Regions from separate parts of the Homo sapiens genome. Here region 2 is linked to region 1. Evidence: fine-mapped expression QTL. A gene starts in region 1. The other region holds a variant in brackets. All regions are shown on one strand. Distances are between the middles of the regions. Region 1 holds the start of UPK1A-AS1 (UPK1A antisense RNA 1). Region 2 holds the start of LINC01766 (long intergenic non-protein coding RNA 1766).

What was found. PIP is the estimated chance that this variant, and not a neighbour inherited with it, causes the effect. A credible set is the group of variants that fine-mapping cannot tell apart.
Region 2: its variant is the best candidate, but not a certain one, in a credible set for the expression of UPK1A-AS1 in whole blood (TOPMed, PIP 0.89).

What each region holds. Positions count from the first base shown.
Region 1 is chr19:35,668,307-35,677,776 of GRCh38, forward strand. It overlaps UPK1A-AS1 (UPK1A antisense RNA 1), which reads right to left and starts at 4,985. Exons shown (of 2, transcript NR_046420.1): 1 at 4,929-4,985; 2 at 1-379. It overlaps UPK1A (uroplakin 1A), which reads left to right. Exons shown (of 8, transcript NM_007000.4): 3 at 148-348; 4 at 4,926-5,000; 5 at 5,132-5,239; 6 at 7,534-7,713.
Region 2 is chr19:35,592,157-35,601,626 of GRCh38, forward strand. LINC01766 (long intergenic non-protein coding RNA 1766) reads left to right here and starts at 5,739. Exons shown (of 3, transcript NR_110750.1): 1 at 5,739-5,801; 2 at 8,485-8,598; 3 at 9,149-9,345. RefSeq lists an enhancer at 4,496-4,635. The variant A/C (reference allele first, on the strand shown) is at 4,649.

The DNA of each region.
Region 1 (9,470 bases):
ATCGCTGCTCATGGAAGGCGAGGTCTTTGCCCACTTTACTGAGAGGGCAGTGGAGGCTCCAAATGGGGAGGGAACTTGCTCGTGGAGATGCCTGGTGCCAGGGCTGCTGGCCCCGAGCAGACCTTCCTAACCCACCGCTCTGTCCAGCTGTCAGGCCTGTCCCTGTTTGCTGAGACCATATGGGTGACAGCCGACCAGTACCGTGTATACCCACTGATGGGAGTCTCAGGCAAGGATGACGTCTTCGCTGGTGCCTGGATTGCCATCTTCTGCGGCTTCTCCTTCTTCATGGTAGCCAGTTTTGGTGTGGGTGCCGCACTCTGCCGCCGCCGGTCCATGGTCCTCACGGTGAGACTCCAGGGGTTGGGGGATGGGGACACTGAAAACGGAGTTCAGCATCACTGAGTCATAGTAGCAGGTGCAGCCCCAGCCACTAGTGTGAGTTCCCCATGGTGTCACACTCAGGGATCCCAGGCATCATCTCATTCAGTCTTCCCACAGCCCAATAACCCAGGCTTGAGTAGCAGAGCTGGGATTTTTTCTTTTTTTTTTTTTTGGTAAAGATGGGGGTCTCACTATGTTGCCCAGGCTGGTCTCAAACTCCTGGCTCAAATGATTCTCCTGCCTCAGCCTCCCAAAGTGCTGGGATTACAGGCTTGAGCCCCTCTACCTGCACCCAGTGCAGGGCTAGAATTTGAACCCCTGCTAGCTGCTTTCCAGAGTCCATGCTCATGAACTCTGCCAATAATAGCACAGCTACCATTTAATAATGGTTTACTACAAGCCACGAGCTGTTCTAAATGGTTTACTGGATTAGTTCATTTATTCCTCATAGTCCACCAAGAGATACTGTCATCATCATGACCCTGTTTGATGAAGATTGAAACTGAGGCTCAGAGAAGTGAAGTCACTTATCCAGGGTCACACATTGAGACAATGGCAGAGCCAGTTTCAACCTGAGCAGATCGGCTCTTGAGGCTGTGCTCTTAATCTCTGCCCACAAGAATAACCCATACTTCCCAAGTGTCTCTCATGCACCTGACACTAGGGTAAGCAGTTTAGAAAATGAGCTTCGTGGCCAGGCGCAGTGGCTCATGCCTGTAATCCCAGCACGTGGGGAGGCTGAGGCGGACAGATCATTTGAGGTCGGGAGTCCAAGACCAGACTGGCCAACATGGCGAAATCCCATCTCTAAAAAAAAAAAAAAAAAAAAAATTAGCCACGCATGGTGGCAGGCACCTGTAATCCCCGCTACTCAGGAGGCTGGGGCGGAAGAATCACTAGAACCCGGGAGGCAGAGGTTGCAGTGAGCCAAGATCACACCACTGCATTCCAGCCTGGATGACAAAGCGAGACTCCATCTCAAAAAAAAGGAAAGAAAATGAGCTTCCTCAATCTTGCCAGAAGCCCTTCACAGCTAGTGCTTTTCAACCCATTTACCAGATGAGGAAACTGAGGCTCAAAGAGGCTAACAGCCTCTCCCAGGTGACCAGGAGAGCAGGGATTCCAATTCACGGCCCCAATGACACAGAGACAGCACTGTGTTTCCTCGACAGCAGAGGGTTTTTCAGATTCCCAGAAGCAGCCACTCATTTGATGAACAAATGCTTATGAGCAGGAGCTACATGCTGAGCCCTACGCTGGGCACTGGGGCTCTGTGCTGAGCGAAACATAAAAGCCCTTGACCCAGGGAAGTGGTGCTCAGAGGAGGAAGACAGTGAACAGGAGGGGAGGTCAGGAGCCGAGGAGGGCGAGGGAAGACCTCACTGCCAGGGAAAGCAAAGACCTAGAGGCACTGGGAGCGAGGCAGGTGTGTAACTGGAGGAAGAGCCTTCCAGGTGGAGGTGGCAGCAAGGGCAAAGGCTCTGAGGCCAGAGCGGGCCAGGAGTCCAAAGCAGCTGGAGCTGAGTGAGGAGGAGGTTGGGGGGTGAGAGGACATGAGGCAGACAGATGGGGAGGAGAACAGTGAGGAATGGGGATGGGAAAGAAGCAGGAGGGAAGGCAGGTGTTGTGGACTTTGGCTTTATCCTGAGTAAGATGGACCCATAGACCCCCTGCTCCCCTCCCCTCCCTTCCCCTCCCCTTCCCTCCCCTCCCCTCTCCTTCCTTCCTTCCTTCGTTTTTCTACACAGGCAGGTGTTGTGGACTTTGGCTTTATCCTGAGTAAGATGGAGCCATGGACTCCTCCCCTCCCCTCCCCTCCCCTCGCCTCCTCTCCCCTCCCCTCCCCTCCTTTCCCCTCCCCTCCCCTCCTCTCCCCTCCCCACCTCCCTCCTTCCTTCCTTCATTTTTCTAGACAGGCAGGTATTGTGGACTTTGGCTTTATCCTGGGTACGATGGAGCCATGGACTTCCTTCCCTTCCTTCTTTCCCTCCCTCCCTCCCTCCCTCCCTCCCTTCCTTCCTTCCTTCCTTTCTTTGTTTCTCTAGACAGGGTCTCACTCTGTTGCCCAGTTTGGAGTGCAGTGGCACAATCATAGCTCATTGCCACCTCGAACTCTTCATCTCAAATGATCCTCCCACCTCAGCCTCCCAATGAGCTGGGACTACAAGTGTGCATCACCATGTGCAGCTAATTTTTGTATTTTTTGTAGAGATGGAGTCTCACTATGGTGCCCAGGCTGGTCTCCAACTCCTGGCCTCAAGTGAGCCTCCCACCTCAGCCTCCCAAAGTGTTGGAATTACAGGCATGAGCCACCACACCTGCCCTCTTATTTTCTTATCCTGTATTTAATTATCTGGCATAACAATTTAACCAAAGCCCTAAAAAGTCACCCAACTAGTTTTAAAAATTGTGTCTGGGCCGGGCTCGGTGGCTCACGCCTGTAATCCCAGCAGTTTGGGAGGCCGAGGCAGGTGGATCACAAGGTCAGGAGATCGAGACCTTCCTGGCTAACACGGTGAAATCCCGTCTTTACTAAAAAACAAAAAATTAACCAGGCGTGGTGGCGGGCGCCTGTAGTCCCAGCTACTCGGGAGGCTGAGGCAGGAGAATGGCGTGAACCCGGGAGGCGCAGCTTGCAGTGAGCAGAGATCGCGCCACTGCACTCCAGCCTGGGCGACAGAGCAAGACTCTGTCTCAAAAAAAAAAAAAAATTGTGTCTGTTTCCCCATTAGTTTGTCATTAACTAAGACATTTTCTCCCCAAATTTCTTTTTTTTTTTTTTTTTGAGACGGAGTCTTGCTCAGTTGCCCAGGCTGGAGTGCAGTGGTGCGATCTCGGCTCACTGCAAGCTCCGCCTCCCGGGTTCACGCCATTCTCCTGCCTCAGCCTCCCGAGTAGCTGGGACTACAGGCACCTGCCACCACGCCTGGTTAATTTTTTTTTTTGTATTTTTAGTAGAGATGGGGTTTCGCCGTGTTAGCCAGGATGGTCTCGATCTCCTGACCTCGTGATCCGCCCACCTCGGCTTCCCAAAGTGCTGAGATTACAGGCATGAGCCACCGTGCCCGGCCCCCAAATTTCTTACAGGAAATTTCTAAAGTAGACTAGAGTCCGCAGTATTTGAGCCCTGCATACCTCTCACCTGATTTCAACAACATCAGCTGCAGACTGCCCGACATTGTCTCCTCTATCCCCCTTCTCTCATACTTTTTCTTCTGGGTATTTTGAAGCACATTCTAGATGCCAAGTCACTTGCCTGTAAATACTGGAGCACACATTTCTCTGAGTGATAAGCACATTGTTTTAAAGCAGTCAGGAGGTTGTGCAATGTCATCCATCTCCCAGCAGCAGAGTTCACACATCCACACGCAACCTCCTGCTGCTTTATAGATGAAGGTGCCAGGTGAGGACATGAAAAGAATTTGCATTAAACATCAACTGACAAGCTTTTTTTTTTCTCCTGCCCTCTGTGCCGTTGGCACAACCCACCAAATTCAATCAAGTTCTTCTATATCTTCCAATACCCAGTCTGTGTCAAATGTCTCTGATTATCTGAGAACATCGTTTTATGTTGTTTGTTTTATTTTAAGAGACAGGGTCTCACTCTGTTGCCCAGGCTGGAGTGTAATGGCACAATCTCGGCTCATTGCAACCTCTGCCTCCTGGGTTCAAGCTATTCTCCTATCTCATCCTCCTGAGTAGCTGGGATTACAGGCACCCATCACCATGCCCAGCTAATTTTTGTATTTTTGCATTTTTAGTAGATGGGGTTTCACCATATTGGTCAGGCTGGTCTTGAACTCCTGACCTCAGGTGATCCACCCGTCTCAACCTCCCAAAGTGTTGGGATTACAGGCGTAAGCCACTGCACCCACCCTTGTTTGTTTTGTTTTAAGAGACAGGGTTTTGCTCTGTTGCCCAGGCAGGAATGCAGTGGTGCGATCATAGCTCGCTGAGGCCTCCAACTACTGGGCTCAAACGATCCTCCAACCTCAGCCTCCCAAATAGCTAGGACTAACACTACCACTAGTAGTAACTATGCTTAACTAATTTTTTTATTTTTATTTTTTGTAGCGACGGGGTCTCACTGTGTTGCCCAGGCTGATCTTGAACTCCAGGGTTCAAGCAATCTTCCCATCTCAGCCTCCCAAAGTGCTGGGATTACAGGTGTGAGCCACCAATGCCCAGCCCTAATTTTTGTATTTTTAGTAGAGAAGGGGTTTCACCATGTTGGCCAGGCTGGTCTCGAACTCCTGACTCAGGTGATCGCCCCCTCGGCCTCCCAAAGTGCTGGGATTATAGGCGTGAGCCACCACGCCTCGCCTGTCTCAAAAATAAATTAATTAAATTAAATATTTCAAAATACAGAAAAGTTGGAAGACAATACAGCGAACACCTGAACACCCACCACATATTATAGATGCTGCTAGTCACACTGCCCCAAACTTTTTTAAAACTTGCATTTCCCCAGTGATGCTTCCCTGACGGGGTGTGGCTTCACGGGCTCTGCCCGACGGGCCGTCCTCCCTCTGTCTCCCCAGTACCTGGTGCTCATGCTCATCGTCTACATCTTCGAGTGCGCCTCCTGCATCACGTCCTACACCCACCGTGACTACGTGAGCCCGGCGAGGCCTGGGGAGGGGCCTGACCTGCATGGGAGGGGCGAGGGTCCCGGCGCGGCGGGGCGGAGGTCGTCCTCTCTCCCCACCCAGCCCTGCCGGCCCTTGTTCTTCCCTGTTCTCCTCAGATGGTGTCCAACCCATCCCTGATCACCAAGCAGATGCTGACCTTCTACAGCGCGGACACCGACCAGGGCCAGGAGCTGACCCGCCTCTGGGACCGCGTCATGATTGAGGTGGGCGGGGTGGACCGGGTGCTGGGAGGGCCCTGGGCTCCGTCCACAGAGGCCGATAGAGCTCCCGATGTGCCAGCTTTTAGAGGAGTGAGTGCCTTAAAGACATCCGCTCATGAGATCTCTAGGAGAGCAGGGCTGCGGTCATCACCGTTCTGCGGATGAGTAAACAGGCCCAGAAAGGGAAAGTCCCTTGCCCGAGGCCACACAGTCGGTAAGTGGTGGGAGCTGGGATTGGAACCCGGCAGCCTAGCTCCTGACCTCCCTGCTCTTAGCCTACACATACTACCTCAACAGAAATGTTGATAATAACAATGATAGTAACAGCACCATTCACTGAGCTAGGTTTCACACTGTTCAAAGGACTTTTATTTTTATATTTTGAGATGGGGTCTTGCTCTGTTGCCCAGGCTGGAGTGATCATAGCTCACTGCAACCTCCAACTCCTGGGCTCAAGTGATCCTCCCGCCTCAGCTTCCCGAGTAGCTGGGAATACAGGTGCGCCCCACCACACCCGGCTAAGTTTTTTAAATTATCTTTTGTGGAGATGGGGGTCTTGCTCTATTGCCCAGGCTGGTCTGGAACTCCTGGGCTCAGGATTGGAGCGATTCTCCCACCTCCGCCTCTCAAAGTGCCGAGATCACAGGCATGAGCCACGAGTGCCTGGCCTCAAAGCACATTTTTTTTTTTCTTTTTATCTTTTTTTTTTTTTTTTTTTTTTTGAGACAGAGTCTTGCTCTGTCGCCCAGGCTGGAATGCAGTGGCGCGATCTCGGCTCACTGCAAGCTCCGCCTCCCGGGTTCACGCTATTCTCCTGCCTCAGCCTCCCGAATAGCTGGGACTACAGGCGCCTGCCACCGCGCCCAGCTGATTTTTTGTATTTTTAGTAGAGATGGGTGTTAGCCAGGATGGTCTTGATCTCCTGACCTTGTGATCCACCTGCCTCGGCCTCCCAAAGTGCTGGGATTACAGGCTTGAGCCACCGTGCCCAGCCTTTCAAAGCACTTTTAAAGCTTTTTTAATCCTCACGACCACTCCATAAGGGAGATCGGCCTTTTAGTGATGAGGAGACCAAAGCAAGAGGTTGAATATCTTGCATGAGGTCACACACCTGGTAGGTCACAGAACTGGAAGGATTCAAACTCAGACTTCCAGGTTTGAAGAGATACAGTCTTCCTCAAATCCAACATGATATTGCACTGGAAAAGGAAGAAATTGGCTGGGTGCAGTGGCTCAAACCTATAATCCCAACACTTTGGGAGGCAAAGGCGGGCAGATCACTTGAGTTCAGGGGTTCAAGACCATCCTGGCCAACATGGTGAAACCCTGTCTCTACAAAAAATACAAAAATTAGTCAGGTGTAGTAGTGTGCGCCTGTGATTCCAGCTACTTGGGAGGCTGAGGCAGGAGAATCACTTGAACCCAGGAGGGGGAGGTTGCAGTGAGCCAAGATGGCGCCACTGTACTCCAGCCTGGACAACAGAGGGAGACTCCGTCTCAAAAAAAAAAAAAAAAAAGAAGAAGAAATTGAGGACTCAAGGAAAACTGAGGCGTCAATGTGGCCCAAGTCCTCTAGCTAGCCAGGATTTGAACCCATGTTTGAAGGGTGCCCAAGCCTATGTTTTCCTCATTCAGGAGCCACAAATTAAACACCTGGATTCCTTACCAAGGCCAGGAAAAGCCAGAAATCTGCCCTTTTTGTGTTATTTTATCAGCATAGTTGTTGATAAAAATATTTTATTTTATTTTATTTTTTGAGATGGAGTTTCATTCTTGATTCCCAGGCTGGAGTGCAGTGGCACGATCTTGGCTCACTGCAGTCGCCACCTCCCGGATTCAAGCAATTCTCCTGCCCCAGCCTCTCAAGTAGCTGGGATTACAGGCGCCCACCACCACACCCGGCAAATTTTGTATTTTTAGTAGAGACGGGGTTTCATCATGTTGGTCAGGCTGGTCTCGAACTCCTGACCTCAGGTGATCCATCCACCTCGGCCTCCCAGAGAGCTGGGATTACAGGCGTGAGACACCGTGCCCGGCAAAAATATTTTAAAATAAGTCAGAGGTGCAGGTTTAATCCAAATCCCCCATCAGCCTCCTGGTCCTGGGACAAATATTGTCTGCACCGTGCTCACACACACAGACACCCACCGGACACACTCGCTTGGAGGCCCAGGACATGGGGAAGTTGGGCCCAGCTGTGTCAAAGGCCAATCCTGCCCCTCCTTGCTGTGTGACCTCAGGCAAGCAACTGTCCTCTCTGAGCCCGAGCCTGCCTGACCCCCTGCTTTTCACTCTAGCAAGAATGCTGTGGCACATCTGGTCCCATGGACTGGGTGAACTTCACGTCAGCCTTCCGGGCGGCCACTCCGGAGGTGGTGTTCCCCTGGCCCCCACTGTGCTGTCGCCGGACGGGAAACTTCATCCCCCTCAACGAGGAGGGCTGCCGCCTGGGGCACATGGACTACCTGTTCACCAAGGTGTGGCCGTCTGCCCTGCTCCATCTGTCTATCCATCTGTCTGTCTTCCTCTGGTCTCTGCTCCCTCTCTGATTCTCTCTTTCTCCCTCCCTGTGTCTGTCCGTCTAGCTTTTTCCCTCTCCTCTTCCCCTCTCTGATTTTCTTGTTTTCTTTTTCTTTCTTTCTTTCTTTCTTTCTTTTTTTTTTTTCAAGACCGAGTCCTGCTCTGTCACCCAGGCTGGAGTACAGTGGCACAATCTCAGCTCACTGCAGCGTCTGCCTCCCGGGTTCAAGGGATTCTCCCACCTCAGCTTCCAGAGCAGCTGGGATTACAGGTGCGCACCACCCTCTTGGCTAGTTTTTGTATTTTTAGCAGAGACGGGGTTTGACCATGTTGTCCAGGCTGGTCTCGAACTCCTGAGCTCAAGTGATCCACCCACCTCAGCCTCCCAAAGTGCTCAGATTACAGGCGTGAGCCACCACGCTGGGTCCCCTCTCTGATTTTCTAGTGCTCCCCCAACTCTCTCTCAAGTCAGCAGGATGCACCCAGGGTCTGTCTGAACCAGACCTGGCACCTACAACTTTACTCAGGTTGTCCGAGAATAAGAGCAATAATAGGGCCGGGCGCGATGGCTCATGCCTGTAATCTCAGCACTTTGGGAGGCTGAGGAGGGCAGATCACTTGAGGTCAAGAGTTCGAGACCAGCCTGACCAACATGGCGAAACCCCATCTCTACTAAAAATGCAAAAATTAGCCCAGAGCAGTAGCACGTGCCTGTAATCCCAGCTACTCGGGAGGCTGAGGTAGGAGAATCACTTGAACTCTGGAGGTGAAGGTTGCAGTGAGCCGAGATTGTGCCACTGCACCCCAGCCTGGGCGACAGAGTGAAACTCCATCTCAAACAAAAAAAAACAAAACAAAACATCAAACAAAACAATAGAGCTAGGCACGGGGGCTCACGACTGTAATCCCAGTACTTTGGGAGGCCAAGGCAGGAGCATCACTTGAGGTCAGAAGCTCAAGACCAGCCTGGGCAACATATCAAGACCCCGTCTCTACAAAAAAGTACAGAAAATTAGCCAGGCGTGGTGGTGCGCGCCTGTAATCCCAGCTACTGGGGAGGCTAAGGCAGGAGGATTGTTTGAGTCTAGGAGGTCAAGGCTGCAGAGAGCTGTGATGGTGCCACTGCACTCTAGCCTAGGCAAGAGACTTAAAAAAGGCAAGAGACTTTAAAAAAAAAAAGGCCGGGCGCGCACAGTGGCTCATGCCTGTAATCCCAGCACTTTGGGAGACCGAGATGGGAGGATCACAAGATCAGGAGTTCGAGACCAGCCTGACCAACATGGTGAAACCCCGTCTCTACTAAAAATACAAAAATTAGCCGGGCGTAGTGGTGCACACCTGTAATCCCAGCTACTCAGGAGGCTGAGGCAGGAGAATTGCTTGAACGCGGGAGGTAAAGGTTTCAGTGAGCCGAGATCATGCCACTGCACTGTAGCCTGGGTGACAGAGGGAGACTGCGAGACTGTCTCCAAAAAAAAAAAAAAGCCAGCTGTAAGATCAAAATCACCCTCAGATTGTCATAGCCATCAGCAGGGCGGCACCTACTTGTGCAGGGCCTGGGTTCAACATCAGCTCCCTGGGGCCCCGAAACCACCCGAGGAGGTGGACAGTGCCATGGTCCCCATTGCACAAGTGAGAAAACCAATGCTCAGGGAAGGTGGTGACTTTCCCAAGGGCGCACAGTGACTCTCGCTTTCAGCGGCTACCCTCATGG
Region 2 (9,470 bases), 76 kb before region 1:
TTCTGGGCCTGTAATCTTTTTCGTGTAGCAGATTTTGAGTACTTTGTCTTCACTATGATGGTGAAAGCAGCAACTCTCGGAGTCAAGTACAAGCCACTGTTATGAGCAGCTTCGGAGTATTGATTCTTTTGGTCTCCACACTAACCCTATAGCCTGCATTCTTACAGACTGAGGATAAAGCACAGGGAGCTGGAAAGACACAGTGCAGGTCTCACAGCGAATTCACTGAGGGGCCAGGATTGGGAACCAGGAAATCTGCCACCAAAAGCCGTGTTCTTAAGCACTAGGTGGACAACACTGCCTCCCATCGACCGTTAGTAGCAATTCAATCTTTTTACCTGCTGGAGTCACTTGTTAATCACTTACCTTTCTCTTAACAAATCATTTTTATTTTCGACATAGAAGCTAACTTGAAGGAGCGCCCACTGGCCCAGAGTGGTACAACTTAAACATCAAAAATATTAATAACGGCCAGGCGCGGTGGCTCACTCCTGTAATCCCAGGACTTTGGGAGGCTGAGGCAGGTAAATCAATTGAGGTCAGGAGTTCGAGACCAGCCCGGCCAACATGGTGAAACCTCGTCTCTACTAAAAATATAAAAATTAGCCAGCCGTGGTGACAGTCACCTGTAATCCCAGCTACTCGGGAGGCTGATGCAGGAGAATCGCTTAGAGCTCGGGAGTCGGAGGTTGTAGTGAGCCGAGATGGCGCCATTGCACTCCAGCCTGGGCAACAAGAGCAAAACTCCGTCTCAAATAATAATAATAATAATAATAGTAATAACAATAATAGATTTAAACACACCAAATATATATCATATTTAATGATGAAGGATGGAATACTTTCCCTATAAGATCAACAACAAGGAAAGGATGTCTGCTCTTGACACTCCTATTTGACATAGTGCTGGAAGTTCTAGTCACTGCAAGAAAAAAACGCAAACAGGGCCCGGCGCAGTGGCTGACGTCTGTAATCCTAACACTTTGGGAGGCAGGAGGATCACTTGAGACTAGGATGTCAAGACCAGCCTAGGCAACACAGCATGACCCCATCTCTACAAAAAATATTAAAAAATTAGCCAAGCATGGTGGCACATGCCTGTAGTCCTACCTGCTCAGGGGGCTGAGGCAGGGAGATCACTTGAGCCCAGGACTTTGAGACTGCAGTGAGCTATGATCACACCAACACTGCACTCCAGCCTGAGGAATAGAGTGAGACTCTGTCTCAAAAAAGAAAAAAAGGCATTTAGATTGGAAAGGAAGAAATAAAACTGTATCTGCAGGTGACATGAGATATGTGTGTGTGTGTGTGTCTGTGTGTGTAGTTGATGCAAAAATAATTGCGGTTTTTGCCATTGAAAGGAATGACTGCTGGGCATGGTGGCTCACGCCTGTAATCCCAGCACTTTGGGAGGGTTTTTTTTTTTTTTTTTTTTTTTGAGATGGAGTCTCACTCTGTCACCCAAGCTGGAGTGCAGTGGTGTGGTCTCGGCTCACTGCCAGCTCCGCCTCCCGGGTTCACGCCATTCTCCTGTCTCAGCCTCCCGAGTAGCCGGGACTACAGGCACCCGCCACCACGCCCAGCTAAATTTTTGTATTTTTAGTAGAGACGGGGTTTCACCTTGTTAGCCAGGATGGGCTCGATCTCCTGACCTCGGGATCTGCCCTCCTCAACCTCCCAAAGTGCTGGGATTACAGGCATGAGCCACCGTGCCTGGCGTTTTTCTTTTCGTTTTTTTTTTTTCTTTTTTTTTTTTTTTTGGAGATAGAGTCTCACTCTGTCACCCAGGCTGGAGTGCAGTGGTGTGATCTTGGCTCACTGCAACTTCCACCTCCTGGGTTCAAGCGATTCTCCTGCCTCAGTCTCCCTAGTAGCTGGGATTACAGGCGCCCACCACCATGCCCAGCTAATTTTTGTATTTTTAGTAGAGACGGGGTCTCACCATGTTGGCCAGGCTGGTCTTGAACTCCTGACCTTAGGTGATCCACCTACCTCAGCCTCTCAAAGTGCTGGGATTACAGGCGTGAGCCACAGCCCTGGACGGATGTATTTTCAATACATGTCTTTATAATGCATGTGAAAGCTAACGCATACATGGGAGACAATGAAGGGACCAATATGGTGGAAGTTTTCCATATTCCACTTGAAGTTGCAAAATATTCAATCTAGGTAGACTATAGAATGTTTAAGTGTGTTTACCATAATCCGTAGAGCAATCACTTAAAACTTGCAAAGATATATAGTGAAAATCACAATAAATAAATTAAAATGGAGTACTAAAATAGTATTTGAATAATCCAAAAGAAAGAAGGAAAAGGGAAAACAAGGAACAAAACACAGAAAAGTGGAAATAAAAAACAAATAATAGTAGACCTAAAGCAAAACATACCAATAATCATATTTAAGGCACATGATCTAAACACACAAGTTATAAAATATTTTCATAATGCACTTAAAAAAAAAATAGCCAGAGCCGGGCGCGTTGGCTCACACCTGTAATCCCAGCACTTTGGGAGGCCAAGGCAGGCAGATCACGAGGTCAGGAGACCATCGTGGCCAACAAGGTGAAACCCTGTCTCTACTAAAAATACAAAAATTAGCTGGGCGTGGTGGCGGATGCCTGCAATCCCAGCTACTAGGGAGGCTGAGGCAGGAGAATCGCTTGAACCAGGGAGTCAGAGGTTGCAGTGAGCCGAGATCGCACCACTGCACTCCAGCCTGGCGACAGAGGGAGACTCCATCTCAAAAAAAAAAAATAGCCAGGTTCAAAGGCTCATGCCTGTAATATCAGCACTTCGGGAAGCCGAGGTGGGTGGATCACTTGAGCCCAGGAGTTTGAGATCAGCCTGGAAAACATGGTGAAACTCCGTCTCTACTAAAAATACAAAGAAGTTAGCTGGGTGTGGTGGCACACGCCTATAGTCCCAGCTACTTGGGAGACTGAGGCAGGAGGATAACCTGAGCCCAGGAAGTCGAGGCTGCAGTGAGCCATCATCACATCACTGCACTCCAGCCTGGGTGACAGAGTGAGGCCCTGTCTCAAATAAATACATACATAAATAACTTGAGCCCAGGAGTTCAAGATCAGCCTGGGCAACATAGTGAGACCCCATCTCTGCAAAAAATTTCAAAATTAACCTGGCATGGTGGCTTGCACCTGTAGCCCCAGCTACTCAGAAGTTTGGGGCAGGAGGTTGTTTGAGCCCAGGAGGTCAAGGCTGCAGTGAGCCGTGTTCACACCACTACACTCCAGACTAGCAACAGAACAAAACCTTGTCTTAAAAAAAATAGAAGTAGGCCAGGCGCGGTGGCTCACTCCTGCAATCCCAGCATTTTGGGAGGCCAAGATGGGCTGATCACCTGAGGTCAGGAGTTCGAGACCAGCCTCACTAACATGGTGAAACCCAGTCTCTACTAAGCATACAAAAATTAGCCAGGCATAGTGGCAGGTGCCTGTAATCCCAGCTACTTGGGAGGCTGAGGCAGGAGAATCACTTGAATGCAGGAGGCGGAGGTTGCAGTGAGCCGAGATCACGCCATTGCACTCCAGCCTGAACAACAGAGTGAGACTCTGTCTCAAAAAATAAAAAAATTAAAAACTTAAAAAATAGAAGTAGGCCGGGCGTAATGCCTGTAATCCTAGAACTTTAGGAGGCCAAGGCAGGCGGATCACTTAAGGTCAGGCGTTCGAGACCAGCCTAGTCAACATGGCAGAACCCCGTCTCTACTAAAAATACAAAAAATTAGCCAGGCATGGTGGTGCGCACCTGTAGTCCCAGCTACTCAGGTGGCTGAGGCAGGAGAATCACTTGAACCCAGGAGGCGGAGGTTGCAGTGAGCCAAGATCACATCACCACACTCCAGCCTGGAAGACAGAGCAAGAAGAAAGAAGGAAAAGAAAGAAGAGAAGGAAAAGGAAGAAAAGAGGGAAGGGAAGGGAAAGGGAAAGGGAAAGGGGAAGGGGAAGGGAAGGGGAAAGGGAAAGGGAGGGGAGGGGAAGGGAAGGGGGAAAGAATGAAGGAAAGAAAGGAAAGGAAAGGAAGGAAGAAAAGAAATGATTGTTTGCTTGGTGTTGGAGGGGCTTGAGGGGGTGGGGAAAAAGGGGGGAACCCACACATTTGATCAAAGAACTCTTCTGTGTTGACTGTTGTGGTATGAGAGCAGAGAAAATGCATTGTGTTTTTCCTGAAACACAAGACTCCGAGGCCTACATCACTCTTGCCCCAAGTAGTGCTTTTCTCTCAAGATGCTCAGGAGGAATCTTTAAACAAAGATGATCAAGGAAATGAGGCTTATTTATAGGTCTGTTTTGAAGGTGGAACCAGGGATTCCTCAATTGGCCAATCACTTGAGAGAGTAGAAGGAGCTGTCACCCCATCAAACCAATCAGAAGCCAGGTGTTGGTTCCCACCCTATGACATACCACCTCCAATTGGCCAGTAGAAGTAGAGAGACAGGCTAGGAGGCGGGGCCTGCCTGGCCGCCATGGTAATCCCCTGTGGTTGGTGATCAAGGAAGAGCATAGTGCCAGACCTAGGTGCCCTCCTGGGAATGTTCCAGGAGGGCAGGAGTAGGAGGAGGAGTGTTAGAGTAGAGGGGAAATGATGAGAGCAGAAAGGGTATCATAAAGGAACCTCAGGGGTGATAT[A/C]AGTGGACACAGACATATGTCACAAGGGCACGGGTTTAGAACAGGAAGGCTGTTGTACGTGGTTGGAGAGGGAGTTCAAAGAGTCAGAAAGCTGGTTTCAGAAGTTGAGAGGTGTTAGAGGGAGACAGGGCAGGACTTTGTAAGGTGACAAAGAAGTAGAGACTGAAACCCTGTCTCTACTACAAATACAAAAATTAGCCGGGCGTGGTGGCGGGCGCCTATAGTCCCAGCAAGAGGAGTGAATAGGTGGTCAAATAAGGTCTTAGAGGAGCTAAAGGGGCAGGGAGCTTATGGGCGAACAGGAAAGGTTTACAGCAGGACCCCGCAGGATTCATAGGGACGAAGTAAAGGATATTATAAAAGGAACAGTGAGAGAGCTAACAGAAGTTTTACTTTGGGGGGCAGAGGTGGGAGGATCACCTGAGCCCAGGAATTCAAGACCAGCATGGGCAACATTGTAGCAAAACCCCATCTCTACCAAAAGAAAAAAATTTTTTTTTTTTTTTTTTTTTTTTGAGAGAGTCTCGCTGTGTCACCCAGGCTGGAGTGCAGTGGCAGGATCTTGGCTCACTTCAACCTCCACCTCCCGAGTTCTGCCTCAGCCTCCCAAGTAGCTGGGATTACAGGTGCGTGCCACCACGCCCGGCTAATTTTTGTATTTTTAGTAGAGACGGGGTTTCACTATGTTAGCCAAGGTGGCCTCAAACTCCTGACCTCAGGTGATCCGCCCACCTCGGCCTCCCAAAGTATTGGGATTACAGGCGTCAGCCACCACACCCAGCAAAACAAAAACAAAACAAAACAAAATTTTAGTTAGCTGGGCCTGGTGGTGTGCACCTGTAGTCCCAGCCACTCAGGAAGCTGAGGCAGGAGGATCACTTGAGCCCAGGAGTTTGAGGCTGCACTGAGCTATGATTGTGCCTTTGCACTCCTACAGCCTGGGAGAGAAGACCCTGTCTCTGAAAAAAAAAAAAAAAAAAAAAAAAAAACAGAAGACAAAGAAGTTTTACAGGGTGAGAGTTTTATAAGGGAACAGTGAATTTATAATGAAGGTTTTATACCCAAACACAGGTCCAGTCACTCCACGCTTGCAGAGTCCAATTAACAAGAGCAAGTTCTGGTAGAAAGAAGGTGACTTTATTCCAGAGCTCAGGTGAGGGGAAGAGGTACAGGTTCCTGCCTTAAGGGTATTGCTTCAGCTTTCAGGACAGAAAGCAGGGACTTTTAAAGGGGGGCTTGATGTGAATGACATAAAGGTGGGGGGCAAGGAGGTGTGGGGTCTATGTGACATGCTTTGATGTCTTATCTATCAGGTGTTCTAGCTGTCACCATCGTGAGAAGAGAAATTGACCATTGTCTCAAGGCAATCTGATGGGAGAGAATTCTGGGGGTGCCTGATTTGTTTCAAGGTTCAGTCCCTGGAACTTCTAAGTAAACATATTGTTAGATAAGCTTGCCATGTAGGGAGGTTACAGTTGCATTCCTAAAGAGTTAAGTAGGAGATGGGGGGAAAAGAAAAAGGAAAAAAATCCTTTTTTTTCTTTAAAAATGGGGTACTCTGGCCAGGCACAGTGGCTCAAACCTGTAATCCCAGCACTTTGGGAAGCTGAGGCAGGCAGATCACAAGGTCGGAAGTTCAAGACCAGCCTGGCCAACACAGTGAAACCCCGTCTCTACTAAAAATACAAAAATTAGCCGGGCGTGGTGGCAGGTGCCTGTAGTCCCAGCTACTTGGGAGGCTGAGGCAGGAGAATCGCTTCAACCCACAAGGCGGAGGTTGCAGCTGAGCTCACGCCACTGCACTCCAGCCTGGGCGACACAGCAAGACTTTGTCTCAAAAAAAAAAAATGTGGTACTCAATTACAGTTTCCCACTGTCAAATTCCATTCCATTTCTATGGGATTTGGATGCCACATTCATGCTGGCTACTTCCTGCTGAAAGAGGGCATTGTGATTAGTCATCAGAATGGAACCGATCCACTTGGAGTTGGAAATATTTATGAGTAGTTGGACCAATATGGTGTAAGGTCTGGAAAGTCTCTGGGGAAGTCTGTCTTGCATTCCCATATAGAAGGTGAAACAGCAGAAAAATCCACAGCAGAGAAGTATGTCTATCATTGCAACTAGGGCCAAAGTTGTAAATAGCTTCTTTCCAGGTGAGAACAGTCCTCACCTGCAACAGGATGCCAACCATTGACCTGGTGATAATGTGGGGTCAGACATAGCTTTGATTTTTAGGTGCATGTCTCTCAGGGCTATTGAGACATTTACTGAATTATCTGAGATGTGTACACAGCATTTAGTCTTAATTGTCAGGCACATTCCCAGCTGTCAATTGTACCTGGAGCTCCTGTGGAGATATGATGACAGGGTGGTTAAACACATATATTTAACAGGTTACAAGAGGAGCTATGGGCCGGGCGTGGTGGCTCACGCCTGTAATCCCAGCACTTTGGGAGGCCGAGGTGGGAGGATCACTCAAGGCCAGGAGTTCAAGACTAGCCTGGCCAACTACCAGACCGATGAACTCAGTCTCTACTAAAAATACAAAAATTAGCGGGCATAGTGGTGCACACCTGTAATCCCGGCTCCTCAAGTGGCTGAGGCATAAGAATTGCCTGAGCCCAGGAGGCAGAGGCTGCAGTGAGGCGAGATCGTGCCACTGCCCTCCAGCCTGGGTGACATAGTGAGACTTTGTCTCAAAAATAAAAAATAAGTAAATAAGAAAGGGCTGGGTGTGGTGGCTCATGCCTGTAATCCCAGCACTTTGGGAGGCCAAGGCAGGTGGGTCACCTGAGGTCAGGAGTTCAAGACCAGCCTGGCCAACATGGTGAAACCCCAACTCTACTAAAAATACAAAAATTAGCTGGGCATGGTAGCACATGCCTGTAATCCCAACTACTCAGGAGGCTGAGGCACGAGAACTGCTTGAACCCAGGAGGCAGAGGTTGCAGTGAGCTGAGATCACACCATTGTACTCCAGCCTGGAGAAAAGACTGAGACTCTGTCTCAGTAAATAAATAAGAGCGATACAGAGGCCAGGCATGGTGGTTCACACCTATAATCCTAGCACTTTGAAAGATCAAGGCAGAAGGATCATTTAAGGCCAGGAGTTCACGACAAGCCTGGGCAACATAATGAGATTCCATCTCTACAACAACAACAAAAATCAAAAATTAGCTGGGTGTGGTGGTTTGTACCAGCTACGTGGGAGGCTGAGGCAGGAGGATTGCTTGAGCCCAGGAGTTCGAGGCTGCAGTGAACTGTGATCATGCCAGTGCACTTCAGCCTGAGTGAGAGAGCAAGACCTTGTCTCAAAAAATAAAAGGGATTTGCCGGGCGCGGTGGCTCACGCCTGTAATCCCAGCACTTTGGGAGGCTGAGACAGGTGGATCACGAGGTCAGGAGATTGAGACCATCCTGGCTAACACGGTGAAACCCCGTCTCTACTAAAAATACAAAAAATTAGCCAGGCGTGGTAGCGGGCGCCTGTAGTCCCAGCTACTCGGGAGGCTGAGGCAGGAGAATGGCATGAACCTGGGAGGCAGAGCTTGCAGTGAGCCAAGATCGCACCACTGCACTCTAGCCTGGATGACAGAGCGAGATTCCGTCTCAAAAAAATAAATAAATAAAATAAAAAATAAAAAAAAGGGATAGAGAGAGGTTAGAGGAGACATGGTGGGGGTTAGAGAAAGTCAATGAGAATTTTAAATGGGGTCAATGAAGATCATATAGCTGCCAAGGAGAGATGTGTTAGGGTAAGTAGGGAGAGAGTGAGAAAGGATTGTTAGAGTTCAGAAGCCATAGTGAGACATAACCAACTCTCTGCCCCCCAGGTGTTTGAACTGATGTCTGATGAGGATGAATCCAGCGACTACCTCTGCCTGTCCATCCTGGGCCTCTTCTGTTGCCTTCCCCTAGCCATCCCAGCCGTGATCTTTTCTTGCCTGGTGGGCACCTGCATCATGCCAATCCTTCACCCTCCCTCTCCATCTTGCCCCTGACCCTGACTCAACTTCTTCCTTGTTCTCCCTTCTGAACTAGGAGCCTGAGCAACACCAGCACCTCCTGTGGGTTCAGACCCCCACCCTGAGTCCTTACAGTTCCACAGCCCACCCTCACCCAACAACTGTTTTTTTTTTTTTTGAAACAGAGTCTCGCTCTGTCACCCAAGCTGGAGTGCAGTGGTGAGATCTCAGCTCACCGCAACCTCCATCTCGCAGGTTCAAACAATTATCCTGCCTCAGCTTCCTGAGTAGCTGGGATTAGAGGCGCCCACCAACACGCCTGGCTAATTTTCGTATTTTTGGTGGAGCTGGGTTTCACCATGTTGGCCAGGCTGGTCTTGAACACCTGACCTCAGGTGATCTGCCCACCTCAGCTTCCCAAAGTGCTGGGATTACAGGCATGAGCCACCATGCCCGGCCACGCAATAACTCTTTTATACTCATCTTTCCCTGTTCCCTCTCTCCTAAAACTCAGACAAAGTTTGTATTGTAGACAAAGAACTACAATAAATCCAGTGACTATGAGCTGGCAGCCAAGACCTCCAAACAAGCCTACTACTGGGCCATCGCGAGCATCACTGTGGGAATCTTAGGTACCATCTTGTACACCTACCTGATATACTTACTTAGATTGTAAACTGCTTCCCAGCTCTTGAACAAACCACCAAATATACACCACAGTGCAATTTACCTTGGCTCTAAGCATCTACTTGGGCTGAATGGAACACCTGCTCCTCAATGTCTGGAGTGCCAAGCTATCTAAGATTAGAAAAACAAAATGCAAAGTGTTCTTCCTATTCTTACATGCCCCTCAA